Linked DNA regions of Homo sapiens. The protein of the gene in region 1 purifies or fractionates together with the protein of each later gene. This does not show direct contact. Each region holds a gene or a part of one and is shown in the gene's direction. Other genes may lie near its edges.

Region 1 (3,337 bases):
CATCCCTCCATCCCTCCATTATCCCTCCCTCATCCCTTCATTCCTCCATCATCCCTCCATCCCTCCATTTCTCCACCCCTCCATTCCTCCATCATCCCTCCATCTCTCCATCATTCCTTCATTATCCCTCCATCCCTCCAACATCCAACCATCATCCTTTCATCATCCCTCCATCTCTCCACTCCGCCATCCCACCATCATCCCTCCATCTCTCCATCATCCCTTCATTATCCCTCCATCCCTCCATCATCCCTCCATCCCTCCATCATCCCTCCATCCCTCCATCTTCCCCCATCCCTCCACCTTCCCTCCATCCCTCCATCTTCGCTCCATTATCCCTACATTATCCCTCCATCCCTCCGTCCTTCCACCCCTCCATTCGTCCGTCCTTCCACCCCTCCATCATCCTTCCATCGCTCCATCATTCCTCCATCCCTCCATCTTCCCTCCATTATCCCTCCATCATCCCTCCATCATCCCTCCATCCTTCCACCCCTCCATCCTTCCACCCCTCCACCCCTCCTCTCCTCCATCCCTCCACCCCTCCACCCCTCCATCCCTCCATCCTTCCATCCCTCCATCCTTCCACTGCTCCACCCCTCCACCCCTCCACCCCTCCATCCCTCCATCCTTCCACTCCTCCATCCCTCCACCCCTCCATCCCTGCATCCTACCATCCCTCCGCCTCCCACCACAGTCCTGAACCAGCTGGAGGAGCTGCTGAGCGACATGAAGGCCGACGTGACCCGGCTGCCATCCATGCTGTCCCGCATCCCCCCGGTGGCCGCCCGGCTGCAGATGTCGGAGCGCAGCATCCTGAGCCGCCTGACCAACCGCGCCGGGGACCCCACCATCCAGCAGGTCAGGCTCGGCCTGTGTGCCCCGGCCCGAGCCCCCTGGCGTGCCCCTGGGTGGAGGCTGGGTGGGGGGCCTGAGACCACCTGTGAAGCTGAGTCCTTGCCTCCAGGGCGCTTTCGGCTCCTCCCAGATGTACAGCAACAACTTTGGGCCCAACTTCCGGGGCCCTGGACCGGGAGGGATTGTCAACTACAACCAGATGCCCCTGGGGCCCTATGTGACCGGTAGGTGCCCGTCCGCTCCGGGCAGCATGCACACGGGTGCCCGCCGGGCCCGGCCTGCCTGCTGCTGCCAACGTCAGGCAAGCCCGGCTCTCCTCTTTTTTTGACAGATATCTAGCCGTCCTCGAGACTTCCCTGTGTTGCAGCGCTCATTTCCAGCTGAGGTGAGGGCTGCTGGGTGCTGTGTTCCTCCCCGCCACCCCATTGCTGGCAAACCAGGCCTGGCCACAGTCAGCCCTGCCCCTGCACTTGACTCCCGTCCCTAAGTCCTGGAGCTTTTACTGCCTCCGGCGGCTTTGAGAGCCACCCACCTGCCTGGAGCCCCTCTACCTTGCCCCCTTGGCCCTGGGACCACCTTGTGGCCAGCGTGTCTGTCCACTGGGAGGCTGGGGTGGCAGGACATGAAGGGGTCGGTGGACTTGGGTGAGCTCCTGTGTGTGCACATGTGTTCTCATTTGCACACATGTTCCCAGCGGAAGTCAGAGACTGCTGCCCCCGCCTGGAGCCCTGTCCTGCCCCTGCTGTCCTGCTGGTGGCAGACATCACATCTTGTCTTACACCCTCACTTCCTGCCCAGGACCAGGAGGGTGGCTGAGGGTTTTGTGGGGGCTATTGGCCAGGAGAGGGGGCTTATTTCAGAGAAACTGCCAGTTCATTCTGGTCTTCTCTGGGGCCACCAGCCTCCACTACGCTGTGTCTGTCCCTGTGGGAACCGTGTCTTGCTGGAGGAGGCTCCAGAGGGGCTTCCTGGCTGGCTGCCCCTGCCCACTGCTGCTTCCTGGGTGCTCTCGGCACTCTGGGTGTAGCTCATGGCCTGGCCCGGCAGCCTGTGGCTGGGAGGTCATGGCTGGGGGGCACCCCGATCATAGTTGGTTGTGATAGGTGGAGAAGCAGCTACAGGCTGTTGGGTGCCACCCTGATGCCCCCTATAACTGCCCACCTGCTTAACCCACTGATTTGCGTTTTGCAGCCACGCCTGCCGGGCCACCTGCCCGACCCACATGGGAGAGAAAAGCTGCCACCTTTTTAGGAGCCAGCGCCACCTTGGGACAAAAAGGGAAACCTAGTAATGCCATCACATGGAGGACGAGGCCCAGCTCAGCTGGGCCAGAGCCCAGAAGTGCCACCTCATCATAATTCAAGTGTTCTTCCACACAGCGTTGCCCCCACAACCACGCCGGACGTGCCCCCTCGCCACCTTTTCCAGACGACTTCTTAGAAGAGATTTCATTTATTTGTACATCTTTTGCACTTTCCTATTGAAGACTTGAACACGTTTGTCTTGATAAAAGTTGGATGACGTATGGAAGATTCGAACCTGCAGCACTGATGTCTCTTTACCGATGGGTTCCAGACCCAAGGTAGTCCTGGCACTGCCCTGTGGACTCAGCCCAGCTGGGGAGGACATGGCGCCCGGTGCCCTAGGAGCCCTCAGTGTCCCCTACCTGACCTGTCTGCACCTGTGTGACAGCCCCTTCTGATTTGGCCCCCTGCCCGCTTGGAGCCTCCCAGCACCAGACAGGGCAGGTTTGGGGAGCCGCTGTCCAGCCCTATGGTGAGACCCTGGCTGACATTTCCCCTCCTTCCTGCCAAGGCTGGAGGCCGCCAGGTGTTTGCTCTCTCCTTGTGGGGAGGTGGATCCTCTGCCAGCAGGTGTCTGTCCCCGGCCCAGCGCATCTTGAAGGCCCTGGACTCTGTTACCAGTGGGGGGCCTGTGGCCCCGGCTCTTCACAGCAGGCAGAAGCGTATGATCCCAGGGAGGGTGGGCTGGGGGGGGGGCAGCACTTGCCTCGGAGCCACTGCTGCGTTGGGTTTGCCTTCTGCCAGAGGTGTGGTTAAGGGCAGTGATAGCTGCGCCCCAGCAAGGAGGGTCATGGGCCCTGAGCTGGCCCAGGAGACCCTGGCCCTGCCCTGTGCCCTGGGATGCCTACCCTGCCCACCTCCGGAGGTGGAACCGGGCTGCCCCTGGGGGCCTGGACTTGTCCCATTCCCCTGTCCCTGGAAAGGCCTTCCCGGGGGCTTTTTGCCTGAGGCTGCACTCTTGGAAGGCGTGGGGAGAGTTCTGCCTGGAGGGGGACTGGACCCAGTGCCCTCTGCAGACCCCTCCCAGCCGCAGCACCAAGGGCTTGCTGCCTTGTTTCCTGCCAGGAGCGCCCTGACATCCCAAAACCATCTTCCCACATGTGGGTTGTTGGAATCCCACCCACTCCCCCGGACCCTGCCCCTCCAAGTTGGGGACGGAGATGGGGAGCAGGTCA
Region 2 (3,820 bases), on another chromosome or scaffold:
ACTCTGTCTCAAAAAAAAAAAAAAAAGAATCACAGTAGCTCACACTGTAAAGATCAGAGAACTTTAAGCATTGAAAGATTAAGTGACTTGCCCAGTGTTGTACCTGGCAAATGACAGAGACAGGTTTTGAATATCAGTGTTCTGGCACCTAAATCTGATTATTAACCTCCAAGCTCTACTGACTCTGAATAAGTGTATTCAAAGTACTCCTGATATATTTAAAATGTGATATGGTTTACCTAAAATATAGCAAACTATATTGGAGTCTAAGTGCTCCTTTTAAAGCAAGCTATGCTTTTGGAAACTAGTGCTGTAATTTCAGGATTTTCCCTCTAACTAATGAAAGGCATTTTCTTTGCAAGAGAATTAAGCACCAAATTGTGCAAGGGTTGAAACACTCACTGAAATCAGGATTACACCCACTTTGGCATGGTGTGTCAAGCACCCAGGGCATAAGGAAAGAACAGCAGGCTGGAGTGAATGGTTACACATTCACATTTGAGCCTCAGCCATATATGTGGGTTAATTTCCAAATGGACATTTACATTGCCCTTGTGTGGACCAAGTTGGTGTTTATTTGCAAACATGTTATTTAGATCTAGGAAAATGACAGGATAGCCCCAGGAAAGTTTCACAATTATAACTTAACTAGGCTCCCAGCTTACTTTGCACAAAGGGAGTCCCCAAAATGTTTGATAAACACAACTTCTAATAGTTCATTGATTTTGGGGGAAGCAGCAGTCCACTTTTGCAGTAGGCCTTCACTGGGACTTGCAGACTGACACCCAACATTTGCTATTGCAATGTTATTGAGACTTAGAAACTCATGATACATTCCTGGTCCAGAGTCGGGTGGGGGGAAGTAGAAAAAGGGGAGCCAGAGATTATCTTTGGAAATCTAGTTTTTATTACATCACCTAAAGTAGCACAACCTGCTACACTAATGAAATCGTGTTCTTGGTTTAAAAGGGCAATTGTTAGCCTGACTTTGTGCTCACTAAAAACATTCCCCCAATCTTGTTAAGTTATTGCTCTCATTTCAGATTTTTATGGCTGTGCAGCTTACCAGCCCTCATTTCTTTACGTTTCATTCATTTTCCTTGTATTGATGATTAATGGAGGATGTCGAATGTTAGAGTGAGCAGGCATCAGCAATTGCAAGATCATAATTAGTTTAGCTGACGAGAGCCTCTGATAGCACTTGCATCTGGATGGAAAAATTACCCTATAGGGAACTGGCTGCTCACCAGGTCTTTTTAGTGATACATTGTGAAACACCCGATGAATCAAATGCCCTTTCAATGCCAAGAAAGTGTTCCAGTCTTGAAGCCAAAATTATGTCTGCAGAAAGCTTTCCATTTGAAATGTATCAGAGTACAATTATAACCATTGTATTTTCTTGGCAGGGATACCACTCTTCTACAGTATGGACTTGAGTTAAATAAATTGCCTAAATTTTATGAATCCCTGAAATTTTGACTTATGGCACATGTAATATTTAATTTATAATAAAATTAGGTTCCAGCAAGACTTTTTCCACTCCTTATCTAACACGCATATTTTATCATTAAAGGCTTTGCTTCCTAGAGAAAGGAGAGCTGAACTGCAATTCAGGCTGTCTTTTTTTTTCTTTTTTTTTTTCAGCAAGAGAATTCCATTTCCTGCCTGTTAGTATTTGTGCCTACAAACACAGCCTGACTTTTGTTTAAGTGAGAAGTTTAATGGAATCATTACTTGATAGCAAGAATGGAACAAGCAATACTAATTATCTAGTTTTAAATATTCTTAGGTTATTTTTAACCTGTTGATTACAAAACTCAGGCCACTAGAATCAATTTGTATTTGGAAACCCTTGTGATTTCCAAGTCTAAGTCAAATAAAATAAATAAATAGCCATTGAAGGGTCTATGTTGCCTAACTTAAGTGGGCACCTCATAAGGGTTCTCATTAGTAATACTGTACTTTTAATTGGCTGAAGTTTCTACAAACCCTCTCACGTTTGAGGAATAGAGGAATCTTTCAGATTTTACAATTGCAAACGAAAGACCAGAATTGAGTGTCTTATATTCTCGTAATACTTACGTTACATGAATGACATACAAAAACACACAAATCAAGTTTAATTTTAAATGATTTACATTTATTCCAAACTTGACTATATTTTAAAGCTCAGGTAGCATGTGCTCCTCCTTTCCAAAGTGTATTAAACATATTGCCATGTTCTGTCTTTTTGACGTATGTTTTGACACTTTTAAAAGGTATATTTTAGGGTTCAGCATTTAGGAGCCATCATTAAAGCCATAAAACCCAAAGTTCAAAAAGTTAAAGCTGTTTCTGTGAAAAGCCTTTGGTGTTCCACACACCTCATCCATCACTGTAGGGTTAATTATAATGAAAATCAGTGGTGCCTATTAAACACAATTGAACCTGACCTCATTATGGGCAGTGTGGTTTTATACTGTCATTGTTGCTAGTTTAAAGACAAAACTCCTGGGTTGATTTGGTCTAACTCCACTGATCATGTGACTCACCTCTGACCTTGGTTTTTTTCCCCTGTTTCAGAGGCGTAGAGGCTCCGGTGTTTTTTGTGCCAATTGCCTGACCACAAAGACCTCTCTCTGGCGAAAGAATGCAAATGGCGGATATGTATGCAACGCGTGTGGCCTCTACCAGAAGCTTCACTCGGTAAGAACTTGTTCCACTCTTTCAGGAAAAGCTTTATAAAGCAGTGTTGGCCTGGTCTGTGGTGTGATAAGTCCCATTCCCTGGCTTGCAGTGCCTGCCCCCGCAGGGTTGTTTTAATACAGTCACTTTGAGTGCACATGTGATTTATGGTGAAGGGGGCTTAGATGTGATGGGGAGATAGGTTTGAGGTCATTAGTAATGCATTATGCTTCTTTTGATATAAAAGAGGAAAATGATTGATTTCTGGGAACTTCACAGCAGATAGTTGAACTAATGGTTATCAGAATTCAATGAAATTATTTTAGGTAAAAAGGAGAAAATTTTTAGAAGTTTCAGAAATATGCAAAACGTTTTAAAAAATGAAAAAGGACTCGGTCATGTTCAGTATAAAATATAAGTCAGGGAAAGAATTCGTGTTTTCTAGTTTACCTTCGGAATTCACAAGTGTTATCTTGACCGCTTTAGGGGCTGGAGGGGCACATTCGGAAGGACAGTTCTGAACTGAATTAGGATCAGAGAATATCACATGAATCTCCCCAGGGCCTTCAGTGGGTATTTCAATGAGGTATCTGAAGTTCTGAATAGCACACACACCAGGGTAGAGTAAGGTGCAAAGATACTTTGTCTTTTAAGATCTCCAGCTGGCTTTGGCTCACGGAGGTTCTTTGAATTACTTTTCCTCAAATTTTAGTTAGAATTCTGTAATAAAATTAAAACTCACAAATCCTCCATCTGAATATGGATTTGACTTACTGAAGGATTTTTTTTTTTAGTTTAGCAAGTTCATCTGCTGACAAGAGCTGACTTTAAAATAGGCATCCCCCATTTAGTAAACAAAAATTTATTTCCCTGTGCCTTTTTCATTTCGTTTGGCGTTTTACCATAGCTCTTAGCACAAGCCAGTGAATACATTATGGCTACAGGGAATACACTTTTAGACAAAATGTTCTCATATATGGACCATTAGAAGCACTCTTTAAAAAATGCATGCTGCTAACACTACTAATTGGCAGTAAACTGTAAAAACCTTAGTTATTAGCATGTAGCAAGTAGAAAGATTCCACCCCCCACCACATACCAACTTATTTTTTTTAACCTTCACCATTTAAGCATAGCAATAAGTTTCTATTTAATG

The links.
Region 2: the proteins of CHD5 (region 1) and TRPS1 purify together in Homo sapiens (co-immunoprecipitation; one large-scale study listed by IntAct). This does not show direct contact.

The regions. Positions count from the first base shown.
Region 1 is NC_000001.11:6,104,140-6,107,476, reverse strand, and holds part of CHD5 (chromodomain-helicase-DNA-binding protein 5), read left to right. Parts: intron 1-697; coding exon 698-861; intron 862-967; coding exon 968-1,082; intron 1,083-1,189; coding exon 1,190-1,197; 3' UTR 1,198-1,243; intron 1,244-2,049; 3' UTR 2,050-3,337. UniProt on the Homo sapiens protein: ATP-dependent chromatin-remodeling factor that binds DNA through histones and regulates gene transcription. May specifically recognize and bind trimethylated 'Lys-27' (H3K27me3) and non-methylated 'Lys-4' of histone H3.
Region 2 is NC_000008.11:115,417,195-115,421,014, reverse strand, and holds part of TRPS1 (zinc finger transcription factor Trps1), read left to right. Parts: intron 1-2,562; coding exon 2,563-2,685; intron 2,686-3,820. UniProt on the Homo sapiens protein: Transcriptional repressor. Binds specifically to GATA sequences and represses expression of GATA-regulated genes at selected sites and stages in vertebrate development. Regulates chondrocyte proliferation and differentiation.